Linked DNA regions of Homo sapiens. The protein of the gene in region 2 purifies or fractionates together with the protein of the main gene of each other region. This does not show direct contact. Each region holds a gene or a part of one and is shown on either strand. Other genes may lie near its edges.

Region 1 (3,754 bases), on a different chromosome or scaffold from region 2:
TACCTTTCAATCAGGTCACACAGATAATTGAAAGTCTGAACAGCTTCTTCTTTATCTTCATGTAGTGGAAGCCAAGACAACCAGTGTGGAAGGACCTCTTCAACGTTTACACAGTCAGGCTTGAACTTCATGATTTTCCCTACTGCTGAGATGCAGTTCTCTGTAGCATTGACATTTTCTTTGGTCTTAGAATCCGCAGACTGAATAACTCTTACCAGCAGGGGAAGTGCTTCTAAAATAAGCATTTGAAAGAAGTTCAGCTAAAACCTCACATTTTCATGCAAATGAATATATGTATTTTTGTATTTGGTTCAGATATTGATTATGGTAAAGAAATGTTAAAGTGTATGGGAAGTGTTGTCTTCTTGGCTATGTCATTACAGAATGGCAACAGAGGGGGGACTGCCCCAGCATGGACAGGAGCACTAGCCCTCTACTAACTTAGAGACCCAGAGAGATTAGTGGCCTCCAGATTTACAGTACTCATCACATCACCCGAGGGTCCTTAAACTTTAAAAGCTGCCTAACTATATTCCCCAGTAAGTTTTAAAAGTCCTATTCTGCCAGGTGTGGTGGCTCACGCCTGTAATCTCAGCACTTTGGGAGGCTGAGGTGGGCCGATCACGAGGTCAGGAGATCGAGACCATCCTGGCTAACATGGTGAAACCCCATCTCTACTAAAAATAGAAAAAATTAGCCAGGCGTGGTGGCATGCGCCTGTAGTCCCAGCTACTCAGGAGGCTGAAGCAGAATTGCTCGAACCCGGGAGGCGGAGGTTGCAGTGAGCCGAGATCATGCCACTGCACTCCAGCCTGGGCCTCAATTAAAGAAAAAAAAAAAAGTCCTATTCTAAGGCTGTTGTATATTGCCAAAACGCAAAGAGAAATGCACCCTGGAAGGCTGGGGGCAGGGGATGTCTTTGATTCTATTTCTATGAGAATAAATCATCTTTTTATCATCTAAAATCCTAAATGCTACAGATGAGATGTCTGAAAACAGACTACAGCAGAAATAGGCAAATAATGTTTGGGAGTGTGGTAAAGAGAGTAAAGTAGGGATTCACAGGATGTCTGGAATGAAATGCACGTAACGGAATAAGCAAACGTACCTGTACAAAAAGGGCGATAATTATCTCCACCGTACTGTGCCATGACTCCCAGGCCATATGCAGCTGCTTGCCTGACTTCTGGGCTGTTGTCACATACATATTGGAGCATTGGTCTTAAGAAATATTCTGCGTATTTAAATGAGGCTGGACTACAGTGTTCTATGACATCATCAAAGATGCATAATCCCCATTGTCTGTCTGGCCATGGTCTATGTGGACACTACAAAAGAAATTCTCTTTTAAGCTTCAAATACTGGTGTACACAAAGAATGTAAAGAAATATTCACTATAGACTATCTGCTTACATTGATATTCCTCATACAGGCAAAAGAAAAAAGAAAACATAGTAACAACCACTTCTTGTGACCAACGATATTCAATCAAATACACAGATTTAATAAAATTTAGGTTTCAAAGACTTGTATGATTTGTTACAGAACTCTACAATCTGACACTATCACACAGAAGAACTGACAGTGGAAGCATTGTATATAAATTTACTTTGTAAAAAAGACAATGGTAATGCTACATTAAAAAAATACAATAATAATAAAAGCTGCAAAGATCTTAACTTATAGCATTTATTCAACAGGCTAAGTCATGTGTGCCCGAATCTTTTAAAAAATGTACTGCACTACTTAATACAATAAAATGCAAAATTGAAAGCCAAAAAGAAAAATTCCAAACATCTGATGATAGCTGCTAATTTATAATATATTTTTTAAAAACCGAATACACAGCCAGGCGAGGTGGCTCACGCCTGTAATCCCAGCACTTTAGGAGGCCAAAGTGGGCGGATCACAAGGTCAGGAGGTTGAGACCAGTCTGGCCGATATGGTGAAACCCCATCTCTACTAAAAACCCAACAAAAAAACACAACTAAAAATACAAAAAAACAAAACAAACAAAAAAACTGAATACACATAGGCCATTATATGATGTGTTGATGTAGGTCCATAACAGAAACACATGTATCTACTACTGTGATGGGGGGTGTTAATGGTGCTGAGGCCATGCACGCACAGGGGCAGAGGCACATGGGAAATCTCTGTACCTCCTGTTCAATTTGGTTGTGAATCTAAAACTGCTTTAAAATAGGAAGCGTAGGCCTGGGCGCAGTGGCTCATGCCTGTAATCCCAGCACTTTGGGAGGCCGAGGCGGGTGGATCACTAGGTCAGGAGTTGGAGACCAGCCTGGTCAACATGGTGAAACCCCATCTCTACTAAAATACAAAAAATTCGTCGGGTGTGGTGGCGTGCGTCTGAATTGCTTGAACCCAGAAGGCGGAGGTTGCAGTGAGCCGAGATTGCACCACTGCACTCCAGCCTGGGCGACAGAGCAAGACTCCATCTTGAGAAAAACAAACAAACAAACAAACAAAAAGAAGTCTATAAAACATTTTAAAAAAATCAAATATAAGGGTGAGAGAAGGTAAAAAAAAAATACATATATATATATATATGCCCATTATCCATAATCCATGATTGCTGGTAGTACATAACAAAGATAATTGAATTATCTATGGTCCACTAAAAAAGAAGTAACCATTCTGTTTCCTTTTATTAATTTAGGAGGGCACAGATAATCTGAAATAATAAAAAAAATCACTTATATATCTTTCAGATGTGTTAGAACTGAATTGGCCTATGGAAAACCAAGTTAGGAATCTTCAAGCATATAATGAATGAGAAAATATCCAGGGTAATGCAGTCAACTTGATAAAATCAAAGATGTACAATGGAAACAATCATTTCTGAGACCCATTTTAACTTCAAGCATTAGATTTTACGTTGCAGTGAAAAGAATTCCAGGTAAACTACGCAAAACAACTATTAAGAGAGGTAACACTTACAATGAGGTTGACAATTAATGGAAGCAGCTGTTCAAACCATGGTAACACCTTTTCTTTGTAGCTACTGAATATTGAGTGTAAAATATCTGACACTTTGGTCAGAATATAAACATCATTATCATCCTAAAAAAAACATACACATAAACACTCATATGGATTAAAAAGTATATTTTCTATTATCAATAGTAACATTTATAAAAACCTTAAAAAATGCAGAAAATCAATTTCTCATTCCTGTTTTAAGGGTAAATCAAGAGTCTAGAGACCGGAGTAACCCTCAAGTGTGGGTTATCATGTCTCTTACTAATCAAAGGCCAGTCTTACCTCGAAAGACAAAGGTGTGTGGCAAGAACTGTATTTATTGCAAAGATTTTCCTTGGAACATACTTAAAATAGATGGGTTGAAAAATTATCTCTAATTTCTACATTCTGAAACAAAGGTGTTTTCACTATTTTTACTTTGTTTTCAGCAGAATAATCCTCATTTCGGGGTGGATGGTGGGGAGAATGGGGTCTCGCTGTTAGTGGCAATTTGGGCCTACAAGCATGTGGGCACCTTCAGGAAGCTGGTACTACCTACACGGTAGCACTGGCCCACCAAGTGGCCACATATGAGATGCTGGACTCTAAACACACAATGAAGTATGCTTGACAGTCCTAGGTGGTTTGATGAGAGAACTAAGTAACATGGTGAAAAAGGCCCCAGACCGTCAACAGTGTGACTCTAGGCAATCATTTAACACTGGAATTTTAGGTTACTCATCTTTAATATAGTGAAAGCACCACAAAATAC
Region 2 (4,516 bases):
TCTAATGTAAATGACTTTAAATTTGGGGGAAAAAAAAGACTCTAAGTGTAAGAGAGGTGTCATAATAACCAATCCTCAAAATTCTGCCACCACTCCACTTTATTTAATGGAGAAGTTATGTAGTTGAAAGAACATTCTAACTTCTGTCTAGACCAGTGGTTTTTAATCTTTTGGAAGCCAAGGTCCCCACTAAGAATCTCAGAAAGGCTCTAAGCTTGCTTTTTTTTTTTTTTAAGCTTGTTTAAAAAAAAAAAAATCAGGCTGAGCAGAGTGGCTCACACCTGTAATCTCAGCACTTGGGGCCAAGGCGGGAGGATCACTTGAGCCCAGGAGTTGGAGACCAGCCTGGGTAACATGATAAGACCCCGTCTCTACATTAAAGAAAAAAGCCGGGCATGGTGGCACATGCCTGTAGTCTCAGCTACCCAGGAGGCTAAGGTGGGAGGATGGATTGAGCCCAGGACGTCAACGCTGCAGTGAGCCACGATCCCGCCACAGCACTCCAGCCTGGGAGACAGAAAGAGACCTTGTCTCAAAAATAAAATAATGGCCGGTGCAGTGGCTCACGCCTATAATCCCAACACTTTGGGAAGTGGAGGCGGGGAAATCACTTGAGCCCAGGAGTTCAAGAACAGCCTGGGCAACATGGTGAAACCCAGTCTCTACCAAAAATACAAAACAAAACAAAACAGCGGGTGTGGTGGGTACACCTGTGGTCCCAACTACTCGGGAGACTGAGGTGGGAGCATCGCTTGAGCTGGGGAGGCGGAAGGTGCAGTGAGTCGAGATAGCGCCACTGCATCCAGCTGGGTGACAGAGTGAGACCCCACCTCAAAAAAAATAAAATAACACAAAAATTAAAGTCTTTAATTTCAGGAGTTACAGGAACCCTCAATTAAGGTCTGTTTTAGACTCTATCATCACATTCATATTTATACTATGCTAGCAGTTTGAAATTACAATGTACAAGTAGATATCTATCCTCCTCCTCTGGAGGAATAGACTGTAACTTACTCCACTGTTCCCAAGAGAAACTAAATCAGACCCACTGCCAAAATTCTGCTGCACTATCTATTTGACCCTGAACAAGTATCTTAAATCTCTACAGGTCTCAATATCCACAGGGCTGCTGGAAGCGCAAAATAAGATAACCTATGCTTAGTTACGATAAGAGACACAATTATGCTACTATTATAATCATGGTCATCCGTGAGTTTCCGGGTTTTTTTTGTTTTTGTTTTTGTTTTTTTGGAGTCTCCCTCTGTCGCCCAGGCTGGAGTGCAGTAGCGCGATCTCGGCTCACTGGAACCTCCGCCTCCCGGGTTCAAGCGACTCTCCTGCCTCAGCCTCCCGGGTAGCTGGGACTACAGGCATGCGCCACCACGCCCGGCTAACTTTTTTTGTATTTTTAGTAGAGACGAGGTATCAACATGTTAGCCAGGCTGGTCACGAACTCCTGACCTCAGGCAATCCGCCCTCCTCGGCCTCCCAAAGTGGTGGGATTACAGGCGTGAGCCACTGCGCCCCGCCAATATCCTTTTAACATCAACAATAAAAAGTGACTTGTAGCTAACATTTAGTGCTATGTGTCAAGCAATACCCTAAATGTTTAAAATGGATCATCCTATCAAATTCTATTAATGTTACAACTCCATCTATGGATGAAAAGTGTAACTGGCCCCAAATACCCAGCTTATAAACGACAGTGCTGTGATTATTCAAGCCAAAGCAAACTGACTCAAGATTCTGCGCACATCCACCTTTAATAGCTTCTTCCGTCACTCTTTAGATCCAATTACTAAAGTCTTATTGAATCCAAAATAGATCACATTATTTACATGTAAAGAGGAAAAATACCCTTAAAACATTTGTGGAAAAGGTTAAAAATTGCAAGCCATACTAACGATTTGTAAGAACTTTAGAATTTTTTTTTTTTAAGCAAAGGCAGCTACCAAAGTGTTCCGGGCGGGGAGGGGGGCGAGGGAGGTGAGTATGAGGAGCGGAGTGGAGCTGGACCCTTACAAAGGGACAGCGACAAACACCTCATACTCAAAACAAGGGGACTTTCAGTGTCATTTGCGCCGTCGGGCCATTGCAAATGTCCGCGCTGAGATGCCTACCTTGTCACTCGACGCAGCCGCCAAAGCTCACCCGGAGCTGCGTCAGTCCCCACTGGGTTCCTCCAGGCCAAGGAGGTACGACCTCCGCCGCAGCATATAAAGTATATGTCCAGGAGATGGGAAGAAACCCGCCGATACAGCACCCGGGTGCCCAAGCCCCCGAGAACTAGGCCGCGCGGGTACTACGGGGTGCGCGATCGGCCAGAAAGCCCGGGCCAGGGCGGCCCCAGGAGCGAGCACCGTCGGGAACAAGCGTCGGGAACAAGCCGGGAGAAAGAGGAAGCGCCGGCGCCAAAGGTCTCCCGCCCACCGCTGTCCCCCCAGGACTCTTCATGCGCTTGCAAGCGCCACGCCGCCCACAGGACTGCGCCAGCCGGCCGGCGCCTCAACAGAGCGCGCCAGGGAGCAGCGCCCGTCGGGAGCCATGACGCCTGAGCAGCGCGAGGCCGCCGCCCGGCCAGGTCGAGGCCGTCGGTCTCTTCGAGACCCACTCACCTGTCGAGGCGACGGGGTGGAGCCCTGCACCGAGGCGATGTACCGCTCCACGTCAGCCTTGCTGCGCCTCATCGCGCCGCCAACCTGGCTCCCGAGGCGCGTGAGACCAGCGCTCAGGCCCGCAGCAGTCGCCACTTCCAAGAGGAAAGCGCCTGCAAACCAGTGACGCAGCGCCGTAGCCGGCGGAGGACCACTGTGACGAACTTGCGGCGCAGCCGGCGGAGGACCACTGTGACGAACTTGCGTACTGCGTCAGCAGTGTGCGCCACGTTGGCGACGTCGGCGCTCGAGCTGCACTCGGCCAGGCTCTTGGCAGCGCCGCGTGCTCTGAGGGTGTCTTGGCAAGCCGGGATCAGATTTCGGCCGCCAGTGTCCACAGCCTAGGGCGTAGATTTCCAGCAGATAACAATTTGCGTGATGGGCTCTTAAGCGTTTTGGTCACTTGTTCTAAATTATAAGTGCGCAATGCATTGGAAGAAAAAAAGCACTCAGGCCAATTTGGTGAACGTGTAAATTGGAACAAAGTTTCTGGAGATGACTGGTTAAATACGTTGCATCGGACATGTGTGAATACTAAAGCATACATTTTTAAATTCATATCTTATTAAATGAGGGCCAGGCGTGGTGGCTCACGCCTGTAATCCCAGCACTTTGAGAGGCCACGGCGGGCGGATCATGAGGTCAGGAAATCGAGACCATCCTGGCTAGCACAGGGAAACCCCATCTCTACCAAAAATACAAAAAATTAGCCGGCCGTGGTGTCGGACGCCTGTAGTCCCAGCTACTCCGGAGGCTAAGGCAGGAGAATCGCTTGAACCCGGGAGGCGGAGGTTGCAGTGAGCCGAGATTGCGCCGTCTGGGCGACAGAGGGAGACTCCGTCTGAATTTAAAAAAAAAAAAAAAGGGAGATTTAGAACTGCATAATGAAAAAGACCACAAATATTAAGTTTTGGACAATTACAATTTTTTAAACAGTCATCTCGGCGGGGGATTGGTTCCAGAACCACCGTCTTATGCCAAAATCCACGCATTCCGCCGGGCGCTGTGGTTCACGCCTGTAATCCCAGCACTTTGGGAGGCCGAGGCGGGCGGATCACCTGAGGTCAGGAGTTCGAAACCAGCCTGGCCAACATGGCGAAAGCCCATCTCTACTAAAAATACAAAAAATTACCTGGGCGTGGAGGTGGGCCCCTATAATCCCAGCTACTCGGGAGGCTGAGGCACGAGAATCGCTTGAAACTGAGAGGCGAGGGTTACAGTGAGCTGAGATCGCGCCACTGCACTCAAGCCTGGGCGAGAGTAAGACTTCCTAAAAAAAAAAAGAAGAAGAAGAAGTCCGCGCATTCTCAAATCCCGCAGTCAGTCCTGCGGGTGGAACACTTAGAGGAAAAGTCAGACCTCTCTATATGCAGGCCCCTCCAATACTGTATTTTCTGTCGGCTTATAAGCGGGCCCAGGCAGTTCAAACCCATGTTATTCAAGGGTCAACTGTGTATATAGGAATAGCCATTCGCCTGGCACAGTGGCTTAAGCTGGTAGCCCCAGCACTTTGGGAGGTCGAGGCGGGAGGATCCCTCGAGTCCAGGAGTTCCAGGTTACAATGAACTGTGATAGCGCCACTGCATTCCATCCTGGGCACCAGAGTGAGACCCTTGTCTCAAAAAAAAAAAAAAAAAGGAAAAGGAATAGCCCCCCCAAATCTATATATATTTCACTAGCAGAATAACAGAACATACCAAAATTTAACAGTAATAATGTAAAGATTTTGAGCCGTCTGTATTTTCCAAATCTTCAAAAATGTCTATTTTGGGAATTTGGATATTAAAATCTTACTTTTAAAACAAAATTTAACAAAACATTTTTAATAGTGAGAACCTTTTAGATTTTAAAAGCTCACATTT
Region 3 (3,754 bases), on a different chromosome or scaffold from region 2:
CGGTGAAGCCCTGTCTCTACAAAAAAGGTAAAAAATTAGCCAGGCGTGGGGGCATGTGCCTGTGGTCCTAGCTACTAGGGAGGCTGCAGCAGGAGAATCACTGGAACCCAGGAGGTGGAGGTTGCAGTGAGTCAAGATAGTGCCACTGCACTCCAGCCTGGGCAACAGAGTGAAGACGCCGTCTCAAAACAACAACAAAAAAATGTTTCAAAGCAACATTAATATGTATGATTTGTTTACCATTCGAAATCAGCCATATTCCTACTATTTCTTTCAGTGTGAATATTAAGTTTACTACAATTATACTAAAATAAGAACACAGATGTAACTCATAAACAGTTGGAAGCTATACCTTGTGCTCGAAGCTGGACTAGTTCTTCACTGAGGGCATCGACAGATTCCTCCAACTGTCTTTTCTTTTGTTCCACATTTTGAAGGTATTCAGTCAATGACTTGATTTTGGCTTCATGCTTTTGGAAAAAATATACTGATATGAAGTGGAAAACATATGCATACACTTTAAGAATATTTGACAGTAAACATTTCATTATCTATATATGATAAATTTGGGAATATTTAAAACTAAAATATTCAGGAGCCAATTTTGAAATGTTAAAGAATGTAATCAATTAATTCATTGGTGATCATAACTTGCAAACTAAGGCACTGAAGACTCAAATATGAAATACTAATTTTACAGATACCACCATCTAACGTTACCATCTTCCCTCCTTGTGAAATTCTGATAGTGGTGAATGGCCCCATTCATTCAGTTGCCAAGCCAGGAAACTGGTTCCCTGCAGTTTTGCCCACCCTGGAATTCTGAAGTCTTTAACAAGTTACCACCAGTCACATCATTCTGGTAAATTTCTATACATAACCCATATTTATGTTAGGCAAATATAACTCAGTTAAATCATTCAAATTTACTGCAGCTAGACTAGGAAAAAAACAACTAAATTTCACCTATAGACACACATTTTTCTGAAAACTTGTATAATAAATAAAATTTCTATGTGGCTGTTTCAAAAAAATGAATAAACTTTGTTCTATAACATACTTGAGAGATACGAAGCTGACATGCTGCTAACTCCTTTTCATTTTCTTCCATTTTTTTGTTGCTCTCAGTTTGTGTGCTTTCTAACTGCTTGCAACGTTTCACCATGGTTTTTACTTCTGACTTCATTTTGCTAATGTAGAGTCTTGCAACAGTGAACTCTTCATCTATCATGCCAGTTCCCTCAGGCTGCTGTAAGGAAAAAGTAAAATAAAAAATTAAAGCCAAAAATGTTCAATGTGTGTTTTCCCAATTAGGCTATAAAATCTTTTTATAAAATATATTTTAGTATTACTCAATATTCATACAAAGTCTGGATCTTATTTTTTTCTTTTATTACTGTTTTCAACGAAAGGTAAATAAATACAGCTTACTTTTTGCCTTCCTTTTTTTAAAAACTGAGAATAATGTTAATACATGCCAACAAGAAAAATAAATAAATGTAAACCTAAAGAAAACACAAAAATACAACCAAACTAATAAATTCTGCCTCTTTCAATTTTTTCACTTCCTCTTTACAGGACCTCTTCAGTAAATTCATTGTTAATCATGTGCACGTTCAGCTTAAAATTTAACAAGAGGATGTTTAGGTGGCAGGGAAAGGATGAACTTTAAGCTCAACCAGAAGGAATTGTGGTCACTGTATATTCCTTCACCTTCAGGAAGAAATAAAACTGTGCAGATGACATGATTAAGTTTACATGTAAAGTCAAAAGACCCTGAATAGCTAGCACAACACTAAGGACAAACAAAGTCACAGGACTTGACACTATGCAACTTACTGTAAAGCTATAATAATCAAAACAGTACAGTGCTGGCAAAGAACAGATAAACAGGTTAACAGAACAGAATAAAGAGCCCAGGAATAAAACCACAAAATACAGTCAACTGATCTCTGACAAAGGTGCAAAGGCAATTTAATGGAGGGAGGACAGTCTCTTCAACTGGACATCCAGATGTGAAACAATGAATCCTGGTACACACCTTACCCCTTTCAGAAAAATTAACTCCAAATGGATCATAGATCTAAATGTAAATGCAAAACTGAAAAAAAAACTTTTAACACAGGAGAAAATCTAGGTGATATTGGGTTTGGTGACAAGTTTTTAAATACAATACCAAAAACACAATCTATTAATGTAAAACTTGGTAAGTTGGACCTCATTAAAATTAAAAATTTTTAGTCTCAAAAAATGACGTTGAGAGTAAAAAAAAAAAACAAAAAAAAAAAAACAAGACACAGAGAAATAATGCAAAACACTATCTGATAAAAGACTTATATCCAAAACATATGAAGAACTCTTTTTTTTTTTTTTTTTTTTTTTTTTGAGACGGAGTCTCGCTCTGTCGCCCAGGCTGGAGTGCAGTGGCGGGATCTCGGCTCACTGCAAGCTCCGCCTCCCGGGTTCACGCCATTCTCCTGCCTCAGCCTCCCAAGTAGCTGGGACTACAGGCGCCCGCCACTACGCCCGGCTAATTTTTTGTATTTTTAGTAGAGACGGGGTTTCACCGTTTTAGCCAGGATGGTCTTGATCTCCTGACCTCGTGATCCGCCCGCCTCGGCCTCCCAAAGTGCTGGGATTACAGGCGTGAGCCACCGCGCCCGGCCGAAGAACTCTTAAAACTCAACAATAGGAGGCCAGGTACGGTGGCTCACGCCTGTAATCCCAGCAATTTGGGAGGCTGACGCGGGCAGATCACCTGAGGTCAGGAGTTCAAGACCAGCCTGGCCAATATGGCGAAACCCAGTTGCTACTAAAAATACAAAAAATTAGCCAGGTGTGGTAGTGGGAGCCTGTAGTCCCAGCTACTCGGGAGGCTGAGGCAGAAGAATTGCTTGAACCCAGGAAGAGGAGCTTGCAGTGAGCCGAGATCATGCCACTGCACTCCAACCTAGGCGACAGAGCGAGACTCCATCTCAAAATAAAACAAAACAAAACTCAACAACAGGGCCAGGCGCAGTGGCTCATGCCTGTAGTACCAGCACTTTGGGAGGCTGAGGCAGGCGGACCACCTGTAGTCAGGAGTTCGAAACCAGCCTGGACAATATGGTGAAATCCCATCTCTACTAAAAATATAAAAATTAACCAGGCGTGGTGGTACGCGCCTGTGTTCCCAGCTATTTGGCAGGCTGAGGCAGAAGAATCACTTGAACCCAGGAGGCGGAGGTTATGGTGGGCCAAAATCACGCCACTGCACTCCAGCCTGGGTGACAGAGCGAGACTCCGTCTCAAAGAAAAAGAAAACCTCAACAATAAGAAAAAACACAACTGCAAATTAAAATGACAATAAAATAACACCATACATTAGTAAAATCCCAAGAAACTGACAAGAGCAAACACTGGCAATGATGTGGAACAGCAGACTCTCATTCATGGCTGATAGGAATGCAAAATGTTTCCACCACTTTGGAAGACCATTTGGGAGTTCCTTACAAAGCTAACATAGTCATAACGTACAACCTAGCACTTCTAGGTATTTTTACTCAACTGAACTGAAAATTTATGTCCAAAGAATAACTTACACATGAATTATTATTATTTTTTTTGGAGACAGAGTCTCACTCTGTCACCTAGGAAGGAGTGCAGTGGTACCATCTTGGCTCACTGCAACCTCCACTTCCTGGGCTCAAGCAATTCTCGTGCCTTAGCCTCCCAAATAGCTGGGACTATAGGCGTGCACCACTATGCCTGGCTA
Region 4 (3,754 bases), on a different chromosome or scaffold from region 2:
GACAACCAGGCTGATCCGAGGCCCAGAGATGGCAAGACACCTGCTCATGGGCCTGTGGAAGGACACAGAACCTGGCTGGGGATCAGGTCTGTGACCCCAGCCCAGGAGCGGATGTTCCCAGGCCTCCTGAGCTGCTCACATCCTGGCTCCCATCTCCCAGGTCTTCTTATCTCATGTCCTCATGCTCCTTCCAGCTCCCTCACTTCTTTCCCCCAACAGGGGCAGTTCACCTGGGGGCATGGGCACACCTGGGCCCTGAGTAAGCAGAATGGGTGTCTTAGGGCTCTCAACTGTAGGGAGGCAGTCCTTGAGTTGGGTTTGGTGATCAGGATGGCAGGGTGGGAAGAGGCGATGCCCGGGGCACAGGGTGCTGAGTGAATATTTGTTTATTTGCTGAAGGAGTGGCCACATGGATGCATTTGGGGTTGGGGCCTAGGCAAGAGTGGGAGTGATGGGGGAGGGGAGGTATCCAAGAGCTGGGCTTGAAGACCTCACACTGATGTGCACGCTTTCCCTGCTGCCCCCAGACACCACTCACCAACAGCGAGGAGTCCCTGGATTTCAGCGAGAGCCTGGAGCAGGTAGAAGCCTGGGCAGGGTGGAGCTGGGACAGGCAGCACCATGAGGGGTTCAGAGCCTGAACTGCTGTGCCCTTCCTCCCTCTAAGGCCTCCACAGAGCGGGTGCTCAGGGCTGGGAGGCAGCTGCATCGGCATCTGCTGGCCACCTGCCCAAACCTCATCCGAGACCGGAAGTACCACCTTAGGCTCTATCGGTGAGTGGAGGCCCTGCTGCCTCCTTGCCCAGCCTCACTGCTTTCTCTCCGTTCCACTTTATGTCAGGCACCTGGGCCTCACCCTGCTTCTAGCACAGGGACGAACCAGGCTTGGGCCTCAGAGGGTGCCTTTCTAATGCATAGTTCCTCCCTCTCCCTGCCACCCTCCTTCCACTGGCCTGTCCCCTTCTACCTTCCATAGGCAGTGCTGCTCTGGCCGGGAGCTGGTGGATGGGATCTTGGCCCTGGGACTTGGGGTCCATTCCCGGAGCCAAGTTGTGGGAATCTGCCAGGTGCTGCTGGATGAAGGTGCCCTCTGCCATGGTGAGCCCGAGCCCAGGGTGGGGTGCCCCGGGCTGGGCTGGGCAGTGAGGGGGACAGGACAGGGCAGTCCTGGGAAGCAGGCACTACTTGGGGAGTGCTGAGGGGTGGCATCGCAGTGGGGTTTCATACCCACATAGCCTCAATTTCCTCTCCTCCCCCACGCCTGGGCCTCTGCCCCCCAGTGAAACACGACTGGGCCTTCCAGGACCGAGATGCCCAATTCTACCGGTTCCCCGGGCCCGAGCCCGAGCCCGTGAGAACTCATGAGATGGAGGAGGAGTTGGCCGAAGCTGTGGCCCTGCTCTCCCAGCGGGGGCCTGACGCCCTGCTCACTGTGGCACTTCGAAAGCCGTGAGTCAGAATCCCTGCACCCCGTGACCCCAGGCCTCACACAGCACTCAGATTTCACGGTTTCTCAGATTGATCTCTGGGGGCATCCCTTACCTGTTGTGGAGGGAAGGGAACCTGGCTGGCCCAGAAGCCCCTGGCGCTGACTGCCACGGACTCACTGTGTGACCTGGATCCCTCCACACTCCCAAACCCCCCCAAGTCAGTTTCTTCCTCTGTAGATGAGGATGTTGGACCAGGGGGATCTCTGAGGACCCTTCCCACTCAGAGACACAGTTGTGGCTGAAAGCAAGTGGGTTTTGGAAACTGCAGTCCGGTGGGTCCAGGTTCAAATTCCAGCTGGACTGGCTACTGGCTGGGTGACCTTGAGCCTCCTCATGCTAGTTCCTGTTCTGTCAAGTGAGGATGATAGAACCACTCCTTAGGGTTGTTGTGAAACAATGCATGCAAAATGCTCATCACAAGCGCTGCCACATGTGCGCACTCAGTAAAGGTTAGCTGCTGCTGATAACTGTCACTGCTGAGGCACCGTCTGGCACAGGCATCGGCTGGGTGGGTGGAGTGGCTCCCTGCACCTGACGGGCCCACAGTTCACAGTGTGCTCCCATTCCTCCTGTCCCTGCAGCCCAGGTCAGCGCACGGATGAAGAGCTGGACCTCATCTTTGAGGAGCTGCTGCACATCAAGGCTGTGGCCCACCTCTCCAACTCGGTCAGTCCTGCCCCTCCCAGCCCTGCCCCGTACCAGGCATCTTCTCTTCCTGTGACTTCCCTGAAACTCCAACTGCTGGGCCAGAGGGCATTTCTCCACTTCCATCTATGGCTGGAAATTTTCAGTCTGATTTCTTGCCCCCGGCGCTGCCCTGTCTGAAAATCCTTCCGCCTCTCTCAGCCCATTTTCTCCACTTGCTTTGTCTCCTGCTGAATCCTGGGAACACCTGACCTGGCCACATCTTTGTCCCCCAGCACTTGTGTCTTTGGACCTAACCACACCCCTAGCAAAAGCCTGGCTGCTCTGCACATGAACTTGTCGCCACCGACTCTCCTATCTCCACCACACAGGTGAAGCGAGAATTAGCGGCTGTTCTGCTCTTTGAACCACACAGCAAGGCAGGGACCGTGTGTAAGTCCAGCAGGGCATAAGAAGCCAGGCACAGGGCCTGGACATGGGCAGAAGGATGTGTGAAGGAATGGTAGGTGCCAGGAGGGCCCGGTCTGAGGTATGCTTCTGTCAGTGTTCAGCCAGGGGGACAAGGGCACTTCGTGGTACATTATCTGGAAGGGATCTGTCAACGTGGTGACCCATGGCAAGGTGAGCCCTCCCTCCTCCCCACCCCAGTGCCCTGGGTCCTAACTGCTCCCTGGTCCATGTCCTCATGGGCAGTGCCTTTGTTGATCTACTGCTGCTGACCCCGTGTCTCCTGTGTGGGTTGTTCTCCTGCCGTGGGTCTGTCCTGGCAAGAGCTGGGGGCGGCAGGGGCGGCAGGGGCGGGCTGAGACTGAGGCCTGGCTGCAGGGGCTGGTGACCACCCTGCATGAGGGAGATGATTTTGGACAGCTGGCTCTGGTGAATGATGCACCCCGGGCAGCCACCATCATCCTGCGAGAAGACAACTGTCATTTCCTGCGTGTGGACAAGCAGGACTTCAACCGTATCATCAAGGTGCTGCTGCTGGGGTTGGGGAGGGCAGGGGCCATTCGTCCAGAGAAGTGATGTGGAGAGAGGAGTAGGGACCAGAGCAGAGGGCCTGTAAGAAGCAGGGCAGGTAAGAGATGCTGGGCTATGACAGCTGGCAGTGGGACCATAGCCCTGGGTGTGTGTGAGAAGGTGAAGCCCATAAGGCACAGAAGGAGTTCAGTGAGACCAGTGACTTCAGGCTCAGTGTGGGAGACCAGGGGAAGGATGGGCATGCAGGGGGCGGGGGACTAGGCTGTGGGGGAGGCAGGATGCATGGAAGGTAGGGAAGGCTGAGGAGGTGGAGCCAAAGTCGGAGGTGGGAGAAGGGCTGTGGGTCCCTGTGGGACCCTCATGGGGCTCAGGGGCTGGAATGAAGGAGGTAGATGAGAGGGTCTAAAGCTGGAACATCATGAGTTGAGCATGGGATGTGGCCTGTTCTCCAGGATGTGGAGGCAAAGACCATGCGGCTGGAAGAACATGGCAAAGTGGTGCTGGTGCTGGAGAGAGCCTCTCAGGGCGCCGGCCCTTCCCGACCCCCAACCCCAGGCAGGAACCGGTAATACACCTGCCATGCTCCCTCTCCACACTGTCCCTCCTTTCATTTCCCAATCTTTGCTCCCTTCCCCTGTGTC

The links.
Region 1: the proteins of RANBP2 (region 2) and IPO5 purify together in Homo sapiens (affinity purification with mass spectrometry; 2 studies listed by BioGRID and IntAct, with this or other methods). This does not show direct contact.
Region 3: the proteins of RANBP2 (region 2) and KIF5B purify together in Homo sapiens (affinity purification with western blotting; 2 studies listed by BioGRID and IntAct, with this or other methods). This does not show direct contact.
Region 4: the proteins of RANBP2 (region 2) and RAPGEF3 purify together in Homo sapiens (affinity purification with western blotting; 2 studies listed by BioGRID, with this or other methods). This does not show direct contact.

Annotation. Positions count from the first base shown.
Region 1 is NC_000013.11:98,016,059-98,019,812, reverse strand, and holds part of IPO5 (importin-5), read right to left. Parts: intron 3,085-3,754; coding exon 2,962-3,084; intron 1,329-2,961; coding exon 1,109-1,328; intron 233-1,108; coding exon 4-232; intron 1-3. UniProt on the Homo sapiens protein: Functions in nuclear protein import as nuclear transport receptor. Serves as receptor for nuclear localization signals (NLS) in cargo substrates.
Region 2 is NC_000002.12:108,717,778-108,722,293, reverse strand, and holds the start of RANBP2 (E3 SUMO-protein ligase RanBP2), read right to left. Parts: upstream 2,813-4,516; 5' UTR 2,688-2,812; coding exon 2,616-2,687; intron 1-2,615. UniProt on the Homo sapiens protein: E3 SUMO-protein ligase which facilitates SUMO1 and SUMO2 conjugation by UBE2I. Involved in transport factor (Ran-GTP, karyopherin)-mediated protein import via the F-G repeat-containing domain which acts as a docking site for substrates.
Region 3 is NC_000010.11:32,021,788-32,025,541, forward strand, and holds part of KIF5B (kinesin-1 heavy chain), read right to left. Parts: intron 1,250-3,754; coding exon 1,061-1,249; intron 471-1,060; coding exon 353-470; intron 1-352. UniProt on the Homo sapiens protein: Microtubule-dependent motor required for normal distribution of mitochondria and lysosomes. Can induce formation of neurite-like membrane protrusions in non-neuronal cells in a ZFYVE27-dependent manner.
Region 4 is NC_000012.12:47,748,743-47,752,496, reverse strand, and holds part of RAPGEF3 (rap guanine nucleotide exchange factor 3), read left to right. Parts: intron 1-527; coding exon 528-581; intron 582-667; coding exon 668-774; intron 775-976; coding exon 977-1,098; intron 1,099-1,235; coding exon of another isoform or gene 1,236-1,280; coding exon 1,281-1,449; intron 1,450-2,071; coding exon 2,072-2,156; intron 2,157-2,506; coding exon 2,507-2,567; intron 2,568-2,679; coding exon 2,680-2,756; intron 2,757-2,960; coding exon 2,961-3,107; intron 3,108-3,565; coding exon 3,566-3,678; intron 3,679-3,754. UniProt on the Homo sapiens protein: Guanine nucleotide exchange factor (GEF) for RAP1A and RAP2A small GTPases that is activated by binding cAMP.